4 linked regions of the Homo sapiens genome follow. The protein of the gene in region 2 purifies or fractionates together with the protein of the main gene of each other region. This does not show direct contact. Each region holds a gene or a part of one and is shown on either strand. Other genes may lie near its edges.

What was found.
Region 1: the proteins of COX15 (region 2) and ATP5F1C purify together in Homo sapiens (affinity purification with mass spectrometry; 2 studies listed by BioGRID and IntAct, with this or other methods). This does not show direct contact.
Region 3: the proteins of COX15 (region 2) and SLC25A3 purify together in Homo sapiens (affinity purification with mass spectrometry; 2 studies listed by BioGRID and IntAct, with this or other methods). This does not show direct contact.
Region 4: the proteins of COX15 (region 2) and SFXN1 purify together in Homo sapiens (affinity purification with mass spectrometry; 2 studies listed by BioGRID and IntAct, with this or other methods). This does not show direct contact.

Annotation. Positions count from the first base shown.
Region 1 is NC_000010.11:7,803,952-7,809,820, forward strand, and holds the end of ATP5F1C (ATP synthase F(1) complex subunit gamma, mitochondrial isoform L (liver) precursor), read left to right. Parts: intron 1-3,022; coding exon 3,023-3,029; 3' UTR 3,030-3,059; exon of another isoform or gene 3,060-3,065; intron 3,066-3,707; coding exon of another isoform or gene 3,708-3,711; 3' UTR 3,712-3,850; downstream 3,851-5,869.
Region 2 is NC_000010.11:99,721,761-99,731,504, reverse strand, and holds part of COX15 (heme A synthase COX15), read left to right. Parts: intron 1-1,770; coding exon 1,771-1,952; intron 1,953-3,941; coding exon 3,942-4,064; intron 4,065-4,350; coding exon 4,351-4,537; intron 4,538-7,381; coding exon 7,382-7,549; intron 7,550-9,744. UniProt on the Homo sapiens protein: Catalyzes the second reaction in the biosynthesis of heme A, a prosthetic group of mitochondrial cytochrome c oxidase (CcO). Heme A is synthesized from heme B by two sequential enzymatic reactions catalyzed by heme O synthase (HOS) and heme A synthase (HAS).
Region 3 is NC_000012.12:98,603,686-98,607,792, reverse strand, and holds the end of SLC25A3 (solute carrier family 25 member 3 isoform b precursor), read right to left. Parts: 3' UTR 1,426-4,107; downstream 1-1,425. UniProt on the Homo sapiens protein: Inorganic ion transporter that transports phosphate or copper ions across the mitochondrial inner membrane into the matrix compartment. Mediates proton-coupled symport of phosphate ions necessary for mitochondrial oxidative phosphorylation of ADP to ATP.
Region 4 is NC_000005.10:175,523,560-175,530,242, reverse strand, and holds the end of SFXN1 (sideroflexin-1), read right to left. Parts: intron 3,606-6,683; coding exon 3,509-3,605; 3' UTR 501-3,508; downstream 1-500. UniProt on the Homo sapiens protein: Amino acid transporter importing serine, an essential substrate of the mitochondrial branch of the one-carbon pathway, into mitochondria.

The sequences.
Region 1 (5,869 bases), about 92 Mb from region 2:
TTCAAAAAGGTAATTATTTGAGTGCCCCTTAAGTGTCAGGCCCTGTGCTAGACACTGAGGATACAGTGGTAACAGTATTTGCCTTCAGAGAGCTCAGTCTTCACAGTAAAGGCAGACACTAAATAAGAAGTCACAGCAGAACAGAGGTTGCTAAACTGTGGCCTGGAGCTAAGAATGGGTTCTGCATTTTTAAAGGGATATAAGAAAAAGGAGAGTGATAGCGTGTGACCCACAGAGTGCAGAATACTTGCTGTGTGGCCCTTCACCGAAAAAATTTGCCTATTCTTGTGACAGTGTTATGAGGAAAATAACAAAATCCATTCTCTGTTATACACTCATTCTGCAGAAACACTCGATGTATGTGATCCTATATTTTCTGGTCACCAGCACTCTTCCCAGTCCAGTCTCTTACCATTACCATTTCTCACGTCCTTGAACCTCAGCCACCTTGATCTACTTCCAGATCTACAGATTCGTCACTCTTTCTCGCGGCCAGGGAGTGGCATGTGCTGCAGCCTGAAAAGCCACTATTTCTTCCCTTGCTCCCTTGATTCTTCATCTGACTGCCTCCTGTGTATCCTTCCTTACTCAGCTGGGGGAATCCTTTCTTCCAGAAAACACTCCTTCCTTCAGTCTGAGTGAGGCAGCCTTCTGCAGCATCCTGTCTTCCATTTAGCTTAGCTCTTACAGCCTTGTATGAGGAATTGGCTTTTTATTTGTCTGTGTGCTCCTCGAGGCTAGGATGGGACCATATCTTATTCACTTTTGTGTCCCCATTGCCTGGTACATACCTCCTTCGTGAATGTTGAATGAATGAATGAAATGCCATATGTATTCAGAACTGGAAGTTCAGAAGAGGGACAAATAACATTTTATTGGGTGTATGAAAATGTGGGTCCATGGTTTTAAGAGTCAGGGAAAAGTTCATCACTATTTAAAGTGTTCCTTAAGTGTTACTTTTCAAGGGCAGAAACTGGGCAGAATGCCAGAGAGACACAACTAGAACTTTTTGAGCCAACAGAGACCTTTGTGTAAGTTGTTAGTTGGATCCATCAGCCTCGCTATCCTAAGCATTCTTCTCTTATTTTACTTTCTAAGCACAGCTGTGTTAGGACTAACCCATTCACAGCCTGGTCACCAATGTTCTATCAGCATCACAGAATACTGTCTCATGGTGTCTAGCTTGATGAACTTGGTTAGGATACTCTCTCTGTTACTCAGCTTTGTCATCTGTAACATGGGGACTAATACAAGGACTAAAACCTTCTATTAGCCATTATCCTTCTTGCCATCTACCCCATGTTAAAGCCAGGCTGATTTGTTCTTGGATCTTAAGTGTGACAAAGCCTGCGGGAAGGAACCACATTCTGAAGGTTTGTGGGCTGTGTGAGATCCAGAGAACCCAAGGGGGTTTTTTTGCTCTTGACAAACGAATGTTAGGTATGACCTATGATGATACAACTTCTGCAAAATTGAGGACCAGCCTATTTCTTCATTAGAAATGCAGGAAACCTGGCCGGGCGCAGGGGCTGACGCCTGTAATCTCAGCACTTTGGGAGGCAGAGGTGGGCGGATCACAAGGTCAGGAGATTGAGACCATCCTGGCTAACTCGGTGAAACCCCGTCTCTACTAAAAATACAAAAAATTAGCTGGGCGTGGTGGTGGGCGCCTGTAGTCCCAGCTACTATGGAGGCTGAGGCAGGAGAATGGCATGAACCTGGGAGGCGGAGCTTGCAGTGAGCCGAGATTGCGCCACTGCACTCCAGCCTGGGCAAAAGAGCAAGACTCCTTCTCAAAAAAAAAAAAAAAAAAAAAAAGAAATGCAGGAAACCTATTTAAAAGTAACAGAAACAGCTGGGTGCATTGGCTCATGCTTGTAATCCCAGCATTTTGGGAGACCGAAGCGAGTGGATTGCTTGAGCCCAGGAGTTCAAGACAAGCCTGAGCAACATAGCAAGACCCCATCTCTACAAAAATGAAAAAATTAGCCAGGCCTGGTGGCATGTGCCTGTTGTCCTAGCTACTCAGGAAATTGAGGCAGGAGGATTGCTTGAGCCCAGGAGTTTTAGGCTGCGGTGAGCTATGATCGTGCCACTGCACAAAACCAAGAATTTAGAAAAAGGAATCCACATAATTGGAAATTGAGTATTAAGTTTTTGCTTCCTAGGAAGGTAGTCTAAATCCTTATACAAAAACTTAGCTATGCAGTGCCAAGGTTGGATTGCTTGTGAATGGGTTTGCATGCTCTGTAACCTATCAGTTATTCTGAATCAAGACTTGAATATTTAAACATACTTGGAAAAGAAAAAGATCAAAAAACAAAATAAACATATTTGGCTATTTAGTAATATAATTAAGAACATGAGTAAACCATAGTATTCGAGGTCCAAGTATTAGTTGCCAGCCTAAAAACTAAATATGGCCAGGCGCAGTGGCTCATGCCTGTAATCCCAGCACTTTGGGAGGCCGAGGCGGGTGGATCACCTGAGGTCAGGAGTTCCAGACCAGCCTGGCCAACATGGCAAAACCCCGTCTCTACTAAAAAAGTACAAAAATTAGCTGGGCGTGGTGGCGGGCACCTGTAATCCCAGCTACTCGGGAGGCTGAGGCAGGAGAATGACTTGAACCCAGGAGGAGGTTGCAGTGAGCTGAGATCACGCCACTGCACTCCAGCCTGGGCAACAGAACAAGACTCCATCTCCAAAAAAAAAAAAAACCTCTAAATATATTGTGTTAATTTATAGAAAAATTGTAATTTAAATTACATATTCATAGTCTTGCCTACTTGCATGAGCATGTTTTTATTGCTTCTAACCTGGATTGAAATCTATGACTTTTTATAACAGTCATTGAGTCTGTTTCAAAGGAATCTTGTGGTAAGTATTTTTGCATGATGTACTCAAGGTATCAAGTTTAACAATTGACTTTTTTTCATTGGAAAGCATATGTGATTAACTAGCATGGATTGCTTCTTGACCTGCTTGTTTTGTGTTTGTCTTTTTCTTCTAATATAATAACCAGGGATTAATGAAAATCAAGTTCCATCCTCAGACAAGAGGTAAAGTTCACACATTCTTCCCATGTCTGTTCAGAAAAGAAACCTATTCAGATATAAGTTAAGCTAATTTAGTAATCCTAGAATTGTCCTCTGAGAGATTTAGATGGATGGGCCACTTCACAGTAGCAGCCAACTCACGGGAGCACCTGGGCAACGCTAGTGGACTTTTTTGTAGTGAGTGTGTTGATCATAGAAAATGTAGATATAAGGAAATAAACTTTGAGGATAGAGAATTAACATTATTTTGAGATATTATATATAGGTTGTGAAGAGTGGTGGTTGTCACACTTTATGGTCTCTGGACCCCTTAATGTCTGATTCATGTAGCAGAAGCCAGCTAGATTTTCATCTGTCTCTATTCATTTTGTTGTGATGTCATGGATCATGTGGCCTCTGGAAAACTCTACTGTATACTCGAGAATGAGAATATAACAGGCAAAATAACATTATCATGAAAATAGTTTTGACCTCATGAACCCCATGAAAGGTTCCCCAGACCAAAATTTTAGAATCACTGGTATAGGGTAACACTTTATTGTGTAAATTCAGTTCTCTGTACCCCACTTAAATATGTATTATTATCTCTTGACATTATTTTCCCAAAAAATGCTGTTTGATTTCTTACTTGTTCTGTACTTTGTTTTTCAGGTAAAGAAGGAAAATTCAGCCAGTTGATTTTGTTTTTAGCTTACTGCTGCCTTTGTCCGAAGAAACTGTTCCTCCATTATTTGAATTACTGAAGACAGCAAGATATTTGTAAATTATCTTAAAATAAACAACTTAAAATAAAATCATTGTTTTTCTTATATATAAGAACAATAGATATAGTTTTTGAAATGAGATGATACTAAAACATTTAAAAATATTAATATGCTACTATTAAAATTTTTTAGTAGAAGACAATTTAAGAGGCTCTTTTGATTTGGTAGTGCTCCACTGACCTTAAAATGTCTAGCCTCTATGGGGACAACGTAGAGGGAAAGGGCTGCAGCCACAGCCTCAGCCCAGTTCTGTGCCTTATTACAGCCTTAAAGAACAGTCAACAAGACCAGGCACGGTGGCTCATGCCTGCAGTCCTAACACTTTGGGAGACTGAGACTCAAGGTGGATCACTGGAGGTCAGGAATTTGAGACTAGCCTGGCCAACATGGTGAAACCCTGTTTCTACTAAAAACAAAACAAAATACAAAAATGGTGCACACTTGTAATCCCAGCTACTCAGGAGGCTGAGGCAGGAGAATCGGTTAAACCTGGGAGGCAGAGGTTGCAGTGAGCTGAGATCGCGCCACTGTACTCCAGCCTGGGCAACAGAGTAAGACTCTGTTCCAAAAAAAAAAAAAAAATGCCACAGGAAGCATTTGCTTGGAATTCTGGATACAAAATTGCAAGCATATACTTACTCTAAATTATTTAAAACATCTTTTCTAAACACTGAGAAAAGTACGATACTCACATTTAGATCACAATTAAGATTAGATGCCTGCGTTGACTCCACACTCTGAGTTGGCCATGCCAAAATTTCAGGCTTTTCCCTATTTGTTTAAAATTGATAACTTAGTTTTTTGGGTTTTTTTTAATTACAAAAGTAATATATAAATTCCAAAATACATAAAATTATAAACAATATAAAACCCATTCTTAACAAGCTCCTCTTTTAAAAACAAATGAATGCATGTATTTAGAATGGATTCTTTAAATATTTACAGCTATATTCGTGGTAATGAATAAAAAGGTTCAGTGAACTGACCAGAGCTTCAAAGTCATTTTCTAACTCCCCTCAAAGTTTTCAGGAGCCACTTCTGAAGGGGTTGGTGGCTGAGACTAGGAGAAAGAAACAGCTCACAACTGAGGAATCAGATGGAGGTGTAGTGTGAACCAGTACAAGATACCTTTTGGGAATGTTAGCAACGAACCACGTGCCTCTGGAGGCTGTGTGTATGTGTGTGTGTGTGTGTGCACGCCACTATACCTGGCTAATTTAAAAAAAAATTTTTTTTTTAGAGATGGGGTCTTGCTATTTTGCCCAGTCTGGTCTTGAACTCCTGGGCTCAAGTGATCCTCCTTAGCCCTGCAAAGTGCTGGAATTACAGGTGTGAGCCACCATGCCCATCCTGTTTTGTATTTTGCTTCTAAGCTTGGCTTGACCCACCTCCAGTTTCTAGGAGAGCAGAACACATTTGTGAGGGTGATTTGAGTGTCCTAGACATCATGGAAGGAGGAAAAGCAGGAATTTGAAATCAGTCAACATAAGTAAGAATAATCTGTGTCTGAACTGGAATACTAGCTCAGCCCTTAACAGCTGTGACCTTGGGCAAGTTACTTAATCTTTCAGTTTTATGATCTATAAGATGGAGATTAAAAGATTGTTAGGATTAAATGAGCTAATATTTTAAAATATCGAGAATCTGACAGGGAGTAAGTGCTATATTCTTGGTTAAATGTCTGCTCTATGTAAAATTAATCATCAGCTCCCTGTAGCCTTTAGTGGTGCTCTTCTGTGTACTGGCACTCTGACTCTCTGAGGATACAATAACAAAACGCCTCCTTGCAGGAGCTTACAGTCTGGAGGGAACACAAGCAAATGACAGAATGTGGTAAGTTACAATTGGTGAGCCACAAGAGGGACAGTGACTCAATTTGGGGACAGATGAAGGGGACTGAGAAGGCCGTCCAGCTTGGAGGAAGGGAGGTCTAAACAGTCCTCAAGGACCAGTGACCAACAGTAGAAATTAAACTACTAGAGCTAACTGGTGGGGAGGGAAGGCATTTCAGGCCAAGGAAGCAGAAAAAGCAAAGACCAAAATCTGTTC
Region 2 (9,744 bases):
AACCGAGCATGGATCTTTGGACTCACAGGGATATAGTAAGAAGAGGGCATGCATTTGCTTAACTAGTAATTATTGAGTGGTTATTATATATTAGGAACTGGAAAAAGAAAGATAAATATTACAAGACTCCTGCCCTGGAGGAAGTCAGTTTATTCATTTGCGAAATCCTTATCATGGTCTCATTATATAAAGGAACAGTGTTAGAAACAAAGCTAGCAGAAGGGAGAGAGCAAGACTGACCGGACACTGCCACCCCAAAGCTCATAGTTTAGTGGGAGATACAAACAGATGAACCTGAAGGTAGAGTGATGTGCTGCATAACAACATTTTGGTCAACAACAGGCCACAGATACAGTCATGGTCCCATAAGATTATAATGGAGCTGCCTTTCCAAGTGTACCTTTTTTTTAAAAAAAAATCTTTTTCTCTAAATTTCTTTTTTAGAGACAGCGTTTTACTTTGTCACCCAGGCTGGAGTGCTGTGGCATGATTATAACTCACTGCAGCCTCCAGCTTGGAAATCCTGGCCTCAAGCATCCTCTTACCTCAGTCACTTAAGTAGCTAAGACTACAAGTGTGTGCCACTGTGCCTAATTTTTGAAAAAATAGAGATAGGGGGTCTCGCTACATTGCCCAGGCTGGTCTCGAACTACTGGCCTCAAGTGATCCTCTCACCTTGGCCTCCCAAAGCCTTGGGATTATAGGCTTGAGCCGTTGCACCTGGCCCCATTTTTAAATCTTTTATACCATATTTTTACTGTAATTTTTCTATGTTTAGATAAACAAATACCATTGTGTTACAGTATTCGGTACATAATATGCCATACAGATTTATAGCCTAAGAGCAATAAGTCATACCATATAGCTCAGGGGTGTAGTAGGCGATACCATCTAGATTTCTGTAAGTACTTTTTTTTTTGAGAGATGGAGTCTCACTTCATCGCCTAGGCTGGAGTGCAGTGGTGAGACCTTGGCTCACTGCAACCTCTGCCTCCCAGGTTCAAGTGATCCTGCCACCTCAGCCTCTCAAATAGCTGGGATTACAAGCATACACCACCATGCCCAGCTAATTTTTGTATTTTTGGTAAAGATGGGGTTTCACCATTTTGGCCAGGCTGGTCTTGAATTCCTGACCCAAGTGATCTCCCTGCCTCTGCCTCCCAAAGTGCTGGGATTACAGGTGTGAATCACTACACCCAGCCTTTAGATTTGTGTAAGTACATTCTATGAGGTTCACACAATGATGAAATTGCTTAAGAATGCATTTCACAGAACATGTGCCCCTGTTGTTAAGTGATGCTTGACTGTACATTACAGTGTATTAAGGGCTTTCCAGTGTGCTGTGGGAGTGACCTATTGCAGACCTTGAAGAGCCTGGGAATACATCCCAGAGGAGGTGACATGTAAGCGGAGATCTGCAGTAGGTATTATTAATCAGGGGAAAGGAAGTGTACAAGCCAGAGAGAAATGTTGAAAGACCTAGAGGTGAAAGAAAATATTCCATATCTGTAAGTAGAGTGAAGTCTGAGGGAAGTATTCAGAGATGAGAAGATTCATGTAGTTGGGGATAGGTTTGAGTGAGGCTAGATTTGAAAACCAATTGGAAAACCAGTTGGAAGGCTGATGCAGTAATCCAGATAAGAGATGATGACTTAACAAGACATGGCTGTGGGGATGCTATGGTACTTCGCGCTAATCAGAATGGGGTTGAGTGTGGGTAGCAGCCATTCCCTGTTTCTCCAGTTGTAATTTGTCTATCTTGATCTTTAGTGTGATTGCATCAGGCGCCCTTTGAGGCCAGGGCAATACAGCACCATCTCTGAAGTAGCTTTGCAATCTGGAAGGGGTACAGTGTCCCTTCCCTCAAAGGCTGCTGAGCGGGTGGTGGGCCGATGGCTCCTGGTCTGCAGTGGAACAGTGGCTGGAGCAGTTATTCTTGGTGGAGTAACTAGGTAAGTAATTTGCTCGTAGTGAGTCAGGTATTTGGATCATCAGTAGAAGCACAGGTTGACTGAGGAGAAAGGATTTTTTTTTTTTTTTTTTTTGAGACAGAGTCTTGCTCTGTTGGCCAGGCTGGAGTGCAGTGGTGTGATCTCGGCTGACTGCAACCTCCGTCTCCTGAGTTCAAGCGATTCTCCTGCCTCAGCCTCCCAAGTAGCTGGGACTAGGCGCGTGCCACCATATCTGGCTAATTTTTTGTATTTTTAGTAGAGACAGGGTTTCACCATGTTGGCCAGGCTGATCCAAACTCCTCACCTCAGGTGATCTGCCCACCTCGGCCTCCCAAAGTGCCAGGATTACAGGCATGAGCCACCATGCCCAGCTGGAGAAAGGAATTTTACAGAGCATCTAGTCTAGCTCCCTCATTGTATAGATGGAGAAACCGAGGCCTTAAAGAAGGAACATGTCTGATGGCTTGCCCTGCCATAGAACAGTTGAGTGTTTTATTAGTAGGAGCCTTCTATAAAGACTGGTTTATGTCTTAACTGGTACCTGTGCATTGTTTATGTATCTTTTCTCTTTCAATCAGAGTCCAAGTTTGTCTCAAAACTTTTTTTACAGTTTGTTTGAATTAAACCCAAAGAAGTTCTGTACATCACAATTGGTTCATGTTTCTTAGGTTTGTTTAAATCTATCAAGAGACTATAGATTTAGACACTCCTCCCTTTCCCCCTCTTCTAGTTGCTGAGGAAACTCTAGTCATTTGTCCTATGGTTATGCACAGTTTAGATTTTGCTGACTGCATAACTGTGTGATATTTAACATGTTCCTTTGTCCCGTCTATTTCCTGTGAATGAGTAGTTGGTTGATCAGATTCAAATTAGGGATGAGGGAGCAAAATACTTCAGTAGGTGAATAGAACATTCGTGAATATCTGGTGTCTATTATAGATGTTAACAGCCATTAATTACCATTGCCTAGATCCATTATTTCATTAGCGTAGCAAAATTATAATATTTTATTAGCTCAACTCTAAAAAGCTTTCCCTCATCATCAGTTTGGATATCCCAAGGTATAGTTTGTATAGGAAAGGCAGGATACATACTTGATTCTTCTTTCCCTTTATTTACCAATTTTCAAAATAATAAATTGGTCCCCCAAATCCTCCAAAGGCAACAAATAAAGGATTTGAATTTTTAAGGCTCATTATGAGATCATAGGTTCAAACACACTCGATAATGTTTCGGTCCGTTGTGATGATGGTGTTAGTGATTTGCTCAGATTGTCCCATCTTTAGTCAGTGGGCATCTCCTGAAATTGGCTCTAGTGACTTTTTGGCAGGGCCCTAATTACCTTTGATAGTTTCCTTACTTTCTAGTATGACAAGATGTTCCGAGCTCATCTTGTGCATTTCTTGCCTCAGGCCTAAAATCAGGCTTTTACTCTAGGAATCCTAATTCCTTTTGGTAAAAAAGTTTCTAGTTTTAATCAAATGTGTCTTCCTCAAATTCTCTTCACATTCCACGTCCCTTATTTCAAAATACCTTATGTGTTATATAGGTTGTTATGAGCAAGTGAAACAAATTTGAATTTTATTGTCTTTAAATTCACCCAAGAATCTAAACCTGTATACATGTAACAGGTCTCTTTTCCCTGGGTAAGGAATGTTGGTTATGCATTTAGAACACATTTCTTTGGCTGTAGGGGTTGATTTTACCTGTTGAGGAATGCTAGTGAAAGGAAGAATTGGGAAAAAAAAAAGAATTGGGGAGAGTTGAATAAAAGGATTGAGAGAATATAAGGGTAAATAAATTTGTACCTGATGGCAGCTGTTTCTGACAAAATTCCAAGCAGTAACAGAGAAATGTCTCAAAAGAGGAAACAAGGAAACAATGTGTTTACCTTTAACAAGGTTAAGTTCAGATCCACTTGTTGCTATAAACCTTTTGTGAGTAATCCAGCCTCACGCATACACCCCAAAATTTCTTTCCTATCCTAAGGTTGACAGAGTCTGGCCTCTCGATGGTAGATTGGCATTTAATAAAGGAGATGAAGCCACCTACAAGCCAAGAGGAATGGGAAGCAGAATTCCAAAGATACCAGCAATTTCCAGAATTTAAAATGTAAGTATTAGAGAAAATTAGGTAAACATCCCAGTAGGCCCATTTGATCTTTTGGACTTAAACCCTTCAGAATGGTTAGATTATTTCATGAACTTCGGTTCAGTTATGTTTAGTCAGCTTGTCTTCTAAGCCCCCAAATCCAAAGTCATCCTGAGGTCGTTGATGAGGAAGAGGGCAGACCTACCAAGTTGCAGGACTGAGAAAGAAAGGTTTTGCATTCCGTAAGAAAATAAAAATCAGAAGGATGTTTCCTCCTCCTCCTTTTTTGACTTTCCATTTCACCCAGCTTGAATCATGATATGACACTGACAGAATTCAAGTTCATCTGGTACATGGAGTACTCACACCGAATGTGGGGTCGCCTTGTAGGCCTTGTGTACATCCTGCCTGCTGCCTACTTTTGGAGAAAGGGCTGGCTCAGCCGTGGCATGAAAGGACGTGTTCTTGCCCTCTGTGGCCTCGTCTGCTTCCAGGTAAGATTTATTCAAGGTTGAGAAACCAGAAATGCTCCCAGGAGCTTCCTAGTTGGCATTGTTTTTTTTTTTTTTTTTTTGAGACGGAGTCTCGCTGTGTCGCCCAGGCTGGAGTGCAGTGGCGCGTGATCTCGGCTCACTGCAAGCTCCGCCTCCCAGGTTCATACCATTCTCCTGCCTCAGCCTCTCGGTAGCTGGGACTGCAGGCACCTGCCACTATGCCTGGCTAATTTTTTGTATTTTTAGTAGAGACGGGGTTTCACCATGTTAGCCAGGATGGTCTCGATCTCCTGACCTCGTGATCTGCCTGCCTTGGCCTCCCAAAGTGCTGGGATTACAGGTGTGAGCCACTGCGCCCGGCCCCTAGTTGGCATTCTTTTTAAGGAAATAATCTCTGAGGCACTTTAATAGAATAGGTAAGAGCATGCATTTTAGTGTCACAGGCCTAGCTTCAAGCCCCAGCTCTGACACTTAGGGTAAATTACCTAACCTCTGAAAGCTATGATTTCTTTACCTGTAAATGGGGATAATAACAGTGCCACCATGTACAGTCGTGTAAATATTAAATGAGATAATCCATATTTAAAGTACTTAGCTTAGTGCCTGGAATCAGTAAAGCACTCAGTAGTATATTTTCATGTGCTGCAAGATGTAGTTTGTTTCCCATCATGGGTGTCTCCCTAGGTTCTTGTCTCTCCTCTTTTTCTAACTTGTCTGCTATAGGAAAGAGGGATCCCTGTGCTAGAATGCCACAGAAGCATACAGGAAAATTCCAAAAGAGAGAAACACTTTGTGGGATGAAGGATTGTAGAATACCCATGTAGCTGAGAGATATTCAGATATAAATGGCAATTAAAATCACGTAAGTTGAGCGCCTCTTAAGGAAAGACTCCCACAGTTAACAGGTTAGTACTGCTAGAATGATGAAAAAAAAAAAGTTGGGTGAAACTGAGCAACAAATTAAAAGAGAAGACACATAGGAGTATTTGGGTCAAGGTTTAGAGATCCTAAAGGAGATTATCAGGGCATCAAAGAAACATCAAAATTTAATCAGGAGGAAGCTAATTGGTTAATTTAACTCAGAAGTGGTAAGAAAATGAGTCAGTTAGAAGGGATTAAGGCCGGGTGCAGTGGCTCACACCTGTAATCCCAACACTTTCGGAAGCCAAGGTGGGGGATCAGGAGTTCCAGACCAGCCTGGCCAACATGGTAAAACCCTGTCTCTACCTAAAATACCAAAATTAGCTGGGCATGCTGGCGTGGGCCTGTAGTCCCAGCTATTTCGGAGGCTGAGGCAGAAGAATTGATTGAACCGGGGAGGCGGAGGTTGCAGCGAGCTGAGAGGTTGCACCACTGCACTCCAGCCTGGGCAACAGAGCAAGACTCTGGCTCAAAAAAAATAAATAAAGAAAGAAGGGATTAAGGAGGGAGATGAGAGAGAAGAAATAGAGGCAGCAGAAACAATAATCAAAGTCTAATAGTAACCAGAGAAAGGCATGTAGAACAAAATGAAAGTTAACATTTTAGAATTAGAAAAACAAGCCAACACTGAAAACACTATTAGGGAGGCAGAAATTAAAGATGTCAGATAAGGTATGGGAGAAGAAAGTGGGCTAGTGAATCAACTGTGTACGTCTTCATCTTTCAATGTCTCTTGCAGATGAAATCAAGGTAATTAGAATATCCAGGGTAATCTTGAAAGGGGAGAGAAATGCCCAAAAAGATTTCCTGAAGAGTATATATTTAGAAGTGGCAGAGTCCACCTCTTTGACCTGATTCTACTGGCAAGTGGGAGTGAAAGGGCTGTCTTATTTCATATGATTGGAACTAACAATTGTTTGGTTAATTGAAAAAGCCAGTTAAAGCAGAGAATCATAGAATATGATACATAACATAAACTTTTAAACTTAAATCTGTACGTTCATTACCAACTTTTACAAAATCAAGGCCTTTTCTTTGACTATGCGTCCCCAGATTGGCATTCAACTGCAGGTTTCTTATATCCCCATAAACTGTGGTTTTGCTTAAAGCGGAGTGGGAACTTAGATATTTGCAAAGCGATCTGCATGCAAAACCTTATTGATTTTTATGATTTTCCCCTGAAACTTTTATAATTGTCTTATTCCAACCTAACTTGACAGTAGATGTTTTTAAGCATTTACCTTTATTAAGTTTCTCCAAAACATTCAATCTAGTTTTATGAGATATATCCATGGACCTTTTTTTTTTTTTAAAGCTCATCAGCTACTGTTAGTGTTAGTGTATTTTATGCATGGCCCAAGACAATTCTTCCAGTGTGGCCCAGGGAAGCCAAAAGATCAGACACTTCTGATCTAAATAGTAGTTAAGTATTAATGGTGATATGTGAAGAACTGTGGATAAATCATGAATCTTGGGACACTGCGTATTGGGGAGGGTATGGAAAGAGGAGGGGTGGGGTAGAGAGTACTCCTGATAGCTCATTTCCTCAGTAAAGTTGAACAGATCAGGCCGGGTGTGGTGGCTTACGCCTGTAATACCAGCACTTTGGTAGGCTGAGGTGGGCGGATCACGAGGTCAAGAGATTGACACCATCTGGCCAACATGGTGAAACCCCATCTCTACTAAAAATACAAAAATTAGCCAGGCGTGGTGATGCGCAACTGTAGTCCCAGCCACTTGGGAGGCTGAGGCAGGAGAATCACTTGAACCTGGGAGGCGGAGATTGCAGTGAGCCAAGATCCCGCCACTGCACTCCAGCCTGGTGACAGAGTGAGACTCTGTCTCAAAAAAACAACAAAAAAAAGAAAGTTGAACAGATCATTTTAACCTTGTTTTGTTTGCTTCATCTCTTGGGGGTTCTAGGGTCTGTTGGGATGGTATATGGTGAAAAGTGGACTAGAAGAAAAATCAGACTCCCATGACATCCCTCGGGTCAGTCAGTACCGCCTTGCTGCCCACCTGGGATCAGCCCTGGTTCTTTATTGTGCCAGCTTGTGGACCTCACTGTCACTGCTACTCCCTCCGCACAAGGTAAGAGTTGTGTGCAAATATCTGTGTTCAAGACCCCGCTTTTGGTTCTTTTGGATATATATCTAGAAGTAGAATTGCTGGATCATATAGGAGTTGAATATTTTGCCAACATTTTCTATTGGCAAAGGTGAAACAAATTGAAAAATAGAGTGGGAGGGAGTACCAACAACAAGAAATATCCCAGTCGCTTTACCTCTGACTCCTAGAAGGGATGGTGGATGGCAAAGTGAGAAAGATCAGAACAGAGGTGTTTCTGAACTTCTGGTGTGGACAAGAGCTATATTGTTCGTTAAATGGGGACCTGCCAGTTAAGTCTAATAGTAAACCTTAGTGATTTTGTCTGAAGTATTTTTCTGTCTGCTGATTAAAGCAAAGTACTAGTTTTTCATTTTATGCTTTGATTTAAAAGCAAGGTATAACATTTTTTTGAGGCCTTCATTAATAATAGAGGTTCCAAGACACCACACCCTTATAGGACATTTTTTTCCCTAGAATTTTTTTTTAAATGAGTCTTGGCCAGGCGCGGTGGCTCACGCCTGTAATCCCAGCACTTTGGGAGGCAGAGGCAGGCAGATCACCTGAGGTTGGGAGTTTGAGACCAGCCTGACCAACCTGGAGAAACCCCATCTCTACTAAAAATATAAAATTAGCCAGCCATGGTGGCACATGCCTGTAATCCCAGCTACTCGAGAGGCTGAGGCAGGAGAATTGCTTGAATCCGGGAGGCAGAGGTTGCAGTGAGCTGAGATGGCACCATTGCAGTCTAGCCTGGGCAACAAGAGCGAAATTCCATCTCCAAAAAAAAAAAAAGAGTCTTATATTAGGTATTGAAATCATGGGTTGACCTGAGTAAGCTGTTCCTGGAGAAAAGTTTGAGATGACAGCAGGACTCTTAAGTCGAATCATCCATTAGGTACTTGGAGCTAGTAGCTAGATCCCAGTAAGGACTGGACGTGTTGTCTTGGCAGTCATTCCCACAGAGAAGCCAAATTGGGTTGAAATATTGATACAGTAGACAACCACTGAATAATTCCACATCTGAAAAATAAGGAATTATTTGAAAGTCTCCTGACTTTCAAAGCCAAACTTCATTTATTTACTTATGTATTTATTTATTTATTTGAGATGGAGTCTTGCTCTGTTGCCCAGGCTGGAGTGCAGTGGTGTGACCTTGGCTCACTGCAACCTCCACCTCCCGGGTTCAAGCAATTCTTCAGCCTCAGCCTCCCGAGTAGCTGGGACTACAGGCGCACACCACCATGCTCGGCTAATTTTCTGTATTTTTAGTAGAGACAGGGTTTCACCATGTTGGCCAGGCTGCTCTTAAACTCCTGACCTCAGGTGATCCACCCGCCTCGGCCTCCCAAAGTTCTGGGATTACAGGTGTGAGCCACCGTGCCCATCAAAGCCAAACTTCTAAAATGAATTCATTTTAATTCAGACTTCTAAAATGAATTCATCTTAATGAATTCATTTTGCCTGCATCTATAGCTGCTGCTTCCTGACAATCTATTCCTTCTTTTCAGTCCCTGTAATTATCTTCCTCACCCAACCCAATACATACACACTCACACATTTACCCACACTTACACATAAACCCACACACTCTTGCTACTGAAATTGTACTCTTAAAGGTTACTGATGACTTTATCAATTGTTTTTCTCTGTTAGTTTAGATTCACCTAATTACAAAAAGGATTTGAGATGCTACCCAATGAGCCATATAGTGCTATGCTGTCCAACACAGTAGCTACTAGCTACATATGGCTATTTAAATTTTAACTAATTAAGGCTGGGCACGGTGGCTCACACCTGTAATCCCAGCACTTTGGGAGGCTGAGGCGGGTGGATCATTTGAGGTCAGGAGTTTGAGACCAGCCTGGCCAACATAGTGAAACCCCCATCTCTACTAAAAGTTAAAAAATTAGCTGGGCAATAGTGGCGCGCACCTGTAATCCCAGCTACTTGGGAGGCTGAGGCAGGAGAATCGCTTGAGCCTGGGAGGTGGAGGTTGCAGTGAGCCAAGATTGTGCCACTGCACTCCAGTCTGGGCGACAAAGTGAGAAAAAAAATTTTTTTAATTAAATAAAATTTATTTACATAAGCTTTTTGTTTATTTAAACTTTATATTTAAATAAAATTAATTTTTTATTTAATTTTCAGTCATACTAGCCACATGTTTCAAGCTCTCCTTA
Region 3 (4,107 bases), on a different chromosome or scaffold from region 2:
CCAGCTACTCGGGAGGCTGAGGCAGGAGAATCGCTTGAACCTGGGAGGCGGAGGTTGCAGTGAGCCAAGATTGCGCCATTGCACTCCAGCCTGAGTGACAAAGCGAGACTGCGTCTAAAAAAAAAGAAAAAAGAAAAGGAAAGAAAGAAGAGGATTTCTTATAAGTATCTCACCAGCATCCCCCCAAAAGAATTGTGGTATAACGCGTCCTCCTGGGATCTGGAACAAACGGCCAGCGTCAGTAGAGGCACTTTCTCTACCTCAGGAGCCATGTGATCTTGGGAGTTGTTCCTGTTTCTCCGTAGACCCACCTCACTCTGCCAACTTGCTTCCTCTGTGGGTCCCCATCGACCAAACGCCAAGCTTGAGAGGAAGTCTTTTTTTCATTTTTTGAGACGAAGTCTAGCTCTGTCACCCAGGCTGGAGTGCAGTGGCACGATTTCGGCTCACTGCAACCTCTGCCTTCTGGGTTCAAGCGATTCTCCTGCCCCAGCCTCCCGAGTAGCTGGGATTACAGACGCCCGTCACCATGCCTAAGTGAATTTTTGTATTTTCAGTAGAGATGGGGGTTTCACTGTGTTGGCCAGGCTGGTCTCGAACTACTGACTTCATGATCCACCTGCCAGGGCCTCCCAAAGTGCTGGGATTACAAGTGTGAGCCACCGCGACCGACCATAATCTTCCTTAAATGCATGTATAGCTCATATTTATTTAATGCTTAATATTAGAATTGTTTTGGTCTTTATTAGTTTGGTTATATTTTCGTGACCAGAAATATGTTGTAGGAACTTAACTCATTTATATCAACTAGGCTGTGGTAAAAATAGTTTCATTATTTGTGATTTCACTTAACGTAACAGTTCCCAATAACCTATTAACATCAAGTACAATGACATTTTACCGTCAAACTTATCCATGAGTAAAAGTTGGGTATACCATATTTTCAGATGTTAATGCTTCCTTGAGATTTAGCAGTTTTAACCTTGACTAATATAGCCCTCTAGTGTTAAGATCATGGGTCTTGGAATAATGATATGGCCTGTCACATGAATTATTTTCCATCTTCAAACTTTGCAATACACTGGATTCTGCAAAGCAAGCTGGCTGATTTGAACATCAAATTATTATTCACAGTATTAGGTAGGAATTATATCTTGTGTAAGAGACACATCCCCAAGGCTCTTTCATTCAGTGTAGCAATACTTATTAAGTGACTATTGCATACTGCACTTCAGTGTCTATAAAAACACACATGAAAACTCTGGAATAGCTGCTTTCTAGGAAACTTGTCAGGTCACACCTTAATAACCAGGAGATTCATAAACCTTATCAGTGGTGAGGTTAACATCTCATGCACTTCTATGAACACCTCTGAGAATGTGAAGTCAGGGCTGGCTTGTAAAAGACAAATGATTCAACACATAGTTTGAACTTTTATTTATGTTTAATTTTTTAATTTTTACAAGATGCCGATAGTAGCTGGCTTATTAATGTACATTATTCTTTGATATTTCAGGAAGCCACAGTGTTCAACTGTGAACTACAGAGTCCTGTAAGTTTAAAATAACTTTGTTTCTCAACTATGTGATATCCAGGATTTTTTACAATTACTTTGAGATTTTTCCTCATCAGTAATGCAAAGAAAATTGCAATATGATTATACAATTTATTTTTATTTTTTTAGACAGGTTATCACTCTGTCGCCCAGGCCGGAGTGCAGGGGTGTGATTGTAGCTCATTGCAGCCTCAAACTCCTGGGCTCAGACGATCCTCCTTCAGCTTCCTAAGTAGCTGAGATTACAGGCACGTGCCACCATGCCTGGCTAATTTATTTTTTGTAGAGAGAGGGGTCTCACTTTGTTGCCCAGGCTGGTCTCCAACTCCTGGGCTCAAGTGATACCCAGCCTGGGCCTCCCAAAGTGCTGGGATTACGGGTATGAGCCACTGTGCCCAGCCTGATATACAATTTCTTCCTCAGACAGTCTGGCTCTGTCGCCCAGGCTGGAGTGCAGTGGCACAATCTTGGCTCACTGCAACCTCTGCCTCCCGGGTTCAAGCAATTCTCCTGCCTCAGCCTCCCGAGTAGCTGGAATTACAGGCATGCACCACCATGCCTGACCAATTTTTGTATTTTTAGTAGAGACCTGGGGTTTCATCATGTTGGCCAGGCTGTTCTTGAACTCCTGACCTCAAGCAATCCGCCCACCTCAGCCTCCCAAAGTGCTTGGATTTCAGGAGTGAGCTTTTGCACCTGGCCTGATATACAATTTCTGATGCTATAGAAGCAATGTATAACTCCTAATTTACTAGTGACTGCTATGCGCTTCATTAACATTATGGACATGTCGATCCCAAAAATCATATAGAAATGTTACTTTTTTTTTGAGACAGGGTTTCACTCTGTCGCCCAGGCTGGACTGCAATGGCGTAAACATGGCTCACTGTAGCCTCAACCTCTCGGGCTCAAGCAATCCTCCTGCCTCAGCCTCCCAAATAGTTGAGACTACAGGCATGTGTCACCACACCCCTTAATTTTTGTATTTTCTTTTCTCATTATGTTGTCCAGGATGGTCTCAAACTCCTGGGCTCAAGGCATCCTCCTGCCTTGGTCTCCTAAAGTGTTAGAATTACAGGCATGAGCCACTGTGCCCAGCCAGAAATGTTAAACTCACTTTATGGTTTCAGAACAAGGATCAAATAAAATAAAAATATAAAAAATAAAATATGGTTGGCCAAGTGTGGTGGCTCAGCCCTCTAATCCCAGCCCTTTGGAAGGCCAAGGCAGAAGGCTCGCTTGAGCTCAGGAGTTCAAGACTAGCCTTGGCAACATAGCAAGACCTCATTTCTGCTAAAAATAAAAAACATTAGCCAGACATGGTGGTCCACACTTGCAGTCCCAGTTATTCAAGAGGCTGAGGTGGGAGGATCACTTGAGCTTGGGAGATCGAGGCTGCAGTGAGCTATCATCGTGCCACTGCACTCCAGTCTGGCGACAGAGCAAGACCTTCTCAAAAATAAAATATGGTCGAAACGGGACAGACAAGGCGGCTACCTGTAACCCTGGCCGCTTTAGGAGCTGGGGCAGGAAAGTTGCTTGAGGCCAGGAATCCGAGACCAGCCTGAGCAACAGCAGGACCCGTCTATGAAAAAACAGGAGCAAGTAGTGGCACATCCCAATTGTGTCAGCTAACTGGGAGGCTGAGGCAGGAGGATCGCTTGAGCCCAGGAGTTCAAGGCTGTACTCCAGCCTGGGCGACAAAGCAAGAACCCTGTTCTCTAGGGAAAAAAAAAAAAAAGTCAAAACATTTCATAAAACTTTCACACAATGGAGGTTTAGTTAAGCTGTTACTCTTCTGTTCAATTTTGTTGCACCTATCAGAAGGCATAATTTCATAAAATCAGGATTCCTTGGCGTTTTAACCACTCTCAAAATATTTGATCCTACTGGAAGTTACTATGCAATGCTATCTTGTCCCTGAATCAACATAATTCAACTATCAGCTTCATATATATATATATATATATATATTTTTTTTTTTTGAGACAGAGTTTCGCTGTTGTTGCCCAGGCTGGAGTGCAATGGCGCAATCTTGGCTCACCACAACCTCCGCCTCCCGGGTTCAAGCGATTCTCCTGCCTCAGCCTCCTGAGTAGCTGGGATTACAGGCACGCACCACCACCGCAGCTAATTTTGTATTTTTAGTAGAGACAGGGTTTCTCCATGTTGGTCAGGCTGGTCTTGAACTCCCGACCTCAGGTGATCCACCCGCCTCGGCCTCCCAGAATGCTGGGTTTACAGGCATGACCCACTGTGCCTGGCAGTTTCGTGTATTCTTACTCCACTGGGTTCTGCTTTATCGTATTGACAGTAGACATTTCATTAAATGAAATGTAAAAAGAACACCAATACATACATATTAAAATTTTCTTACTAGAATCTTTTAGTATAATTTAAAAACCTGAAATGAGAATTCGCATCACTTTAAGTGGGCCTCTTGGGTTTTGAGGATGAAGTGGCTTTCTCTCAGAAATAGCTTTGAACCGTAACTCTAGTAACTACAGTGGCAGGCTCCATAGCTTGAACACAGCGTATTTTGTATCAATGCC
Region 4 (6,683 bases), on a different chromosome or scaffold from region 2:
GACAACAGAGTTACTGTAGCAAAACAAATGCAGAAACATGGCCAAGGAAGTTAAAATGCTCAGCTCTGTATCAAGTCTTTTATTAAGGCACTCCCCAAACTTAGGTTAATTTAGACTTTCTCTGTTAGTAAATGCCAGTGCCAGGTTAGAATCAGATCAATAATATAGAAGCATGTTTCCATCACCGTCATGTGCAGAGGTGTTGGCCATCCAAGTTTCAAGCTGAAATCCATCCCCCACGCCCATCATTAATATTCCTGGAATCACATTGTCATAGGAGTTTGGGGGGTGGGTGGGTGTGCCTTTATGTATATGAGGTTCAAAAAGGTGGGAGACTGGTAGCCCAAAATAGAAATATATTTCTTGTTAAAGGCATAATACAAAAATATCTTTTCATTAGGAGTTGCTGATGGTACTGTAGATATTAACTTTGAATGAAAAGTACCATCAGTTGTAACACACAAACTGCTTTATCCTTTATGTACAAATAAAAGAGAGAATTTATTTTCATTCTGAGTTTATTTAACATTTCATCCAGTTGAACTGAAATAATACATGGCCTCCAACACTGGCAAGACGCTGTGCTAATACTGAAATAAAAGCTGCCAGTCAGTAAACACTTACAATCATCATCCTTTGTATCATGTTAATAGAAATATTAATAACTACTTAGCTTTATAAGCTTATTGCACTTCATGTGGATTTTTTTTTCTCCAGAAAAGGTATTTCTAAAAGATCGGCAAGGATTGCCAATCTTGATTTGTTCTTTCTTATAAACTGTGATCAACATACAGTTGATAGCTTTATATAAAAGCATTAAGAGTCTGAAGCATCAAAAAACAACGTTTAAAAAGATGCAGCTCCATGTTCATCATCCCTTTTATAATCTCTTTTTTTTTTTTTTGAGATGGAGTTTCGCTCTTGTTGCCCAGGCTGGAGTGCAATGGTGCGATCTTGGCTCACTGCAACCTCCAGCTCCCGGATTCAAGCGATTCTCCTACCTCAGCCTCCCGAGTAGCTGGGATTATAGGCATGTGCCTCCATGCCTGGCTAATTTTTTGTATTTTTAGTAGAGGCGGGGTTTCTCCATGTTGGCCAGGCTGGTCTCAAACTCCTGACCTCAGGTGATCCACCCGCCTCGGCCTCCCAAAGTGCTGGGATTACAGGGGTGAGCCACCGCACCCGGCCATTCCTTTTATAACCTTTCACACACATAACCGGAGTGTGTAAAATTTTGGTTAGTTTGTCAATCTTCTAACCAGTCATTAGCTCTTCACTGGAGGTTAACATTCTGAAATGGAGCTACACACTACCTGGTAGGGGGAGGACTCTGAGAGGAGCGGGACACCTGGGGCAGGCAGCAGTGCCTTAGCTTCTTATGAAAAGAGCCCTTCAGCACCTCATGGAGAGCTGCCCTGAATTTCAGGCTTTTACCACTTTATAAAGAGACGCGTCGAGGACAACAGAATCTGTCCAAGGCCAGAATGTCATGGGAAAACCGTTTTGCTTCCAATGGTTTAAGACAGAAAATCTAAATAAGAAGACTCTGGCAGCATCAAGGAAGGCTCTGAGTGGCCCAAAGCTTCAGATCTATTAATCCTTTCAGAGAAAAGAGAAACACAGACACAAGGCACGCCATTTTTTCTTTATGAGGAAATTCAGTCTGGTCACATTGTCAGAAAAAAAATCTACCAAAACTAAATAGTTTCTATATTTTTTTCATTTACAATCTCTGAATACAATGATCTACACTTCATGAAATGTCACCCCTCAGTATCCGTGGATGCTTGGTTCCAGGACCGCCCTCCGATACCAATATCTGCAGATGCTCAAGTTCCTGATATAAAATGGCACAGTATTTGCATATAACCTAGGCACATCCTCCTGTATACTTGCTAAATCATCTCTAGATTGCTTATAACACCTAATACAATGTAAGCACTATGTAAATAGTTGTTATACTGTATTGGTTTTTAAATTTGTATTATTTTTCATCGTTATGTATATTTTTTATCTTTTTAGAAAATATTTTCAGGCCGGGTGCGGTGGCTCACGCTTGTAATCCCAGCACCTTGGGAGGCCAAGGCGGGCGGATCACGAGGTCAGGAGATCGAGACCACAGTGAAACCCCGTCTCTACTAAAAATACAAAAAAATTAGCCGGGCGTGGTGGCGGGCGCCTGTAGTCCCAGCTTCTCAGAGAGGCTGAGGCAGGAGAACGGCGTGAACCCGGGAGGCGGAGCTTGCAGTGAGCCGAGACTACGCCACTGCACTCCAGCCTGGGTGACAGAGCGAGACTCCGTCTCAAAAAAAAAAAAAAAAAAAAAATTTTCCATCCAAACTTGGTTGAATTCACAGATATAGAGCTCACGGATACAGAGGGCCAACTGTCTATGACGTTAAACATCTACAGAGTTGAAACATAATCTGTCATATTAAATATATTATCTATGAAATCACTACAGATGATGTAAACAGTGGTACATGGTTTCATTATTTTCAAATGAAGTGGAATGCAACATACAATATTCAAGTAAAATTCATTGTGACTGATTCATACACACATTATCACTGTATCTTTCTGAAAGCCAAAGAGATCTATAAGGATGACAAGAAAAGACATGTAGGTAGCTGGAACTGTAGTCTCACTTCTTACCAAAAAAAAAACAATGAACTGGATTCAGCCCACTCATACAGCATTGGTATTGAATATACTTCCAAAATTTGACATTTGTACATTTCAGTTATTTCATTATTTGATGTAAATAATTGAATATAAAGTCAATAACTGCAAGGTAAGATTATCATCTTTATAAGAACAAAAAACAATAAATTAAAAGTCAACCAAGGCAATCCACTCACAATCTGAATGTATATAATGATCCAGCAGGGAAGGCATGTTGCAGTGGTCTGTGACTGACTTTTGGAAGGGGTGTGAAGGAGCTTTTACCCTCCAAATCCAAAAGCTTCATCACCTTCATTGGGCTAGCGCAATCCCCAAACTAGAAGCAAACTGCCCTTAATATTTCAGGGTAAGTTTTTATAGATTAGCCCAGAGCTTTTGTATTTTCCCAGTTCACTGCTGAGATCTCCTTGATTTGCAATGGGAGTGAGATGAAAATTCAGTATTTTAAACAGATTTCTTTTTTCACTGATTGATAATCAATAGAACATTTACTGACCATATACTGAGCACCTATTCTATGCCTACCAGTGCTTTTTTAAAACCTGGGTGAGGGCTGGTATATCGTCTTTGAAAAACAATGACTATAAAAGCTACAGGAAAGGTATTTCTATAAATCATAACATGATTCAGTGTAAGGGAGTATCAGGCACTTGGCCCACGCCAGGTGCTCTGTTAAAGTAGCAGCTTTATTCTAAAAGGCTAATGTGGATCTTTAAAAGGTTTCCGTAACTGGGAGAACCCAGGTTGAACAGGATTTTTCTCACCAGCATGGCTACACCAGCTTTGCAGTGGCAGAATGAGCTGCAGAGGTTTCCTCCCTGCTTTACAATCCCTTATTGAAGTACACGCGTCGCAATTCAGGATGGCTCTCTTGGATCTTAGCTTGCAACTCGGCCTCCAAGCTTGTCACAGACATGGAACTGGGATAAGGGAGAAATGACAGGGTTATTACACAGGCAGAGGTGAGAATCAGGACCTAGAAAGAGCAGGGAGAAGGCACAGGTGTGGAGATCCCAGGACTGGTACAGTGGGTCTTGTTGGAGAAATGCTTCATGCGGCTAGAAAACGAGATCACGTTCCTTTCAGAAAAATGTCACTCATAATGAAAGAAATGCACTGGAGAACCCAACACCCAACTTTTCCCTCTCATATCATTAAAAGGTGAAATCTCTTATTGCCGGCAAGAGTGTATGGTGATGACACTCTCAGGCCCTGCTGGTGTTGGAAAAACCATTTGTGGCAATGCCACTTCCTAAGAAAAACGTATCAATCATTTGCAATGTTCACCATTGATAAAAAAAGAGATATGCAATCAGTGAAATGCATAACATTGATAATCTGCCTACATTAATGTGCTTTTGTTTACTGTATGTAATACACGCTTATTAAAAAAATTTCAAAAAATACTAAAATGTACAAAAAAAAAAAAAAAACCAAAACATTTATAATCCCGCTGAGAGATAACCACTGTTAGTCTTTAAGTGCTTAAAAATGTATTTGAAGGTATTATGGGTGTATATATATTAAAGCTTATTCTTTAAGAGAAACGCACACTCATTAAAGTATAAAGAAAAATTGTCCAGAATACCTACCAGAAAAACTGCTAATATTTTGATATGTAATTAGTTTAAAAAAAATATTTGAGGCTGGGCGCAGTGGCTCACACCTGTAATCTCGGAGCTTTGTGAGGCTGAACCAGGAGGATTTCTTGAGGCCAGGAGTTTGAGACCAGCCTGGGCAACCTGGTGAGACCCAAATTTTTGTATCTATAAAAATAAAAAATAAGACAGGTGTGTTGGTGTATGCCTGTGGCTCCAGCTACTCAGGATGCTGAGGCAGGAGGGTTGCTCGAGCCCAGAAGTTCAAGGCTGTAGTGAGCTATGACTGTGCCATTGCACTCCAGCCTGGGCAAGAGAGTGAGACCCTGCCTCAAAAACAATAAAAAAATTGATTAATATAGTTGACATGTGATAGACTGTAAGGTTAAAAAAAGTCAGGATATAAGCTTATATTTAAAATATGCAAAACAAATTTTAAAAATTACGAATATAGAAAAAAGGTAGGAAAAAAAATCCCATGATGGCTATTGTTTATGTAGTGGGCCTTTGAGTGATTTTAAATGATGATGACGACACTGATGATGGTAATGATAATGGCTATGACTTACAGCTCACTTGCTGGGCCAGACGTTATGCATTTTAACCCTTAGGAAAACTCTGTAAGTCCAGTATTATAATTGTACAGGTAAGGAAACCTGAGGTGCAACTGAGATGTTGAAGGCAGATCTTTCTTGATCCCAAAGCCCTGCTATACCACCTCTTGGTCTTTCTGTTTTGCCACTGATCTCTAAGTATCTGTAATTACTATGAATGTATGTTAAAGGCCCAAGTCTGATCTTGGAATTAAAGTTATTCAAACCTTGGTGGATGATGGGGAGTATTCTCTTTTTTATCTTCCAGGAGAGTTTGTTTGAAATTGGAATAATCTGTTTCTTGACAGTTGGGAGAAACTTACCTGTAAAACTACCTGTTTCTTGTGTTTTCTTTGTAGGAGGAAGATTAAATGCTGCTTCAGCTTCCTTAATGACTATCTGGCCTATTCTGACTTTCTAATTTTTCAGCTTTGCTAATATTTTTTCCAGAAATTTGTCTATTTTGCTTGTTTTCAAATCTGTTGGTATAATGTTGGTATTATTTTTAATCACTGCTGAACCTACAGTTATACCTCTTTTTCATTCATATTATTTGTACTTTTCTCTTTCTCTTTTTGTTTTGATTAATCTCACCAGACAACTGTCTATTTTGTTTCTATTTTCAAAGAACCAAGATTTCACTTTGTTGATCCTCTACTCTTTCTGTTATTTATTTTATTGATTTCTGATCTTCATCTCCTTCCTTCCTTCTTTTCTGATGTTTATTCTTTTGTGCTTTTTTTTTTTTAAGTTGGGACATTTAGTGCATTGATTTTCAGCTATTCTTCATAATATAAACATTTAAAGCTATAAATATCTCTCAAAGCAACACATTTGCTGCTTCTCAAAAATGTTAATAAAGAATGTTTTCATTATCACTTGTTCACATAGGAGACGGGAAACTGTGGTGCATTCATACAATGCACTATTATACAACAACAACAATGAATGGACTATAGGTACACACAATAATGTAGATGAATCTTAGTTCTGACACTGAATAAAAAGAACAAGTACTAGAAGACTATACATCTTATGACAGTGTGACACCCTTGTCTAAAAAGTTCCTAAGACAAACTAAAGATACATACACAAATATAAAATGCAAGAGCATGAAATTCAGCATAGTGGTTAAATCTGCAGGGGAGGCAGGGACACAGGTTGGGAGGAGCCTATAAGATGTAACTTATTGGAGATATATATATATATATATATATATATATATATATATATATATATATTTTTTTTTTTTTTTTTTTTTTTGAGACAGAATCTCGCACTGTTGCCCAGGCTGGAATGCAGTAGCGTGATCTTGGCTCACCACAGCCTCTGCCTACTGGGTTCGAGCGATTCTCCTGCCTCATTGGGCACTGAATTTGTGGATATTCATTATATTATTAGTATAAGTAAAATAAAAATAAGCAAAACAGGGTCATGCTTGGATCAATGAGGATACTATGTTATGAGCCAAGGAAAAACTGAGGAGCCAGAGACCTCAAGAAGCCAAACATACAATGTATAAACAACAAAACAGAGTAAGAAGCTATTTTAAAATACAGTAAAACAAAAGAGGATTGGTTTCTCAAATGTAAAACCACACGCTTTCTGAGGGCCTTGACCTAAGGACACTAGTAGTTACAGAAAGCTTTCCATTTCTACCCCTAGAGTTTCAATGAATCATAAAAAATAAATGTTGGGCTATATTTTATTTCTTGCAGCACTCAAAGAAAAAAGGCCAAAGTAGAAAGTTTCTCTATGGGTTTTCAAATCTAAAACCCTTTCAATCTGAAAATAATTACAGCTACAT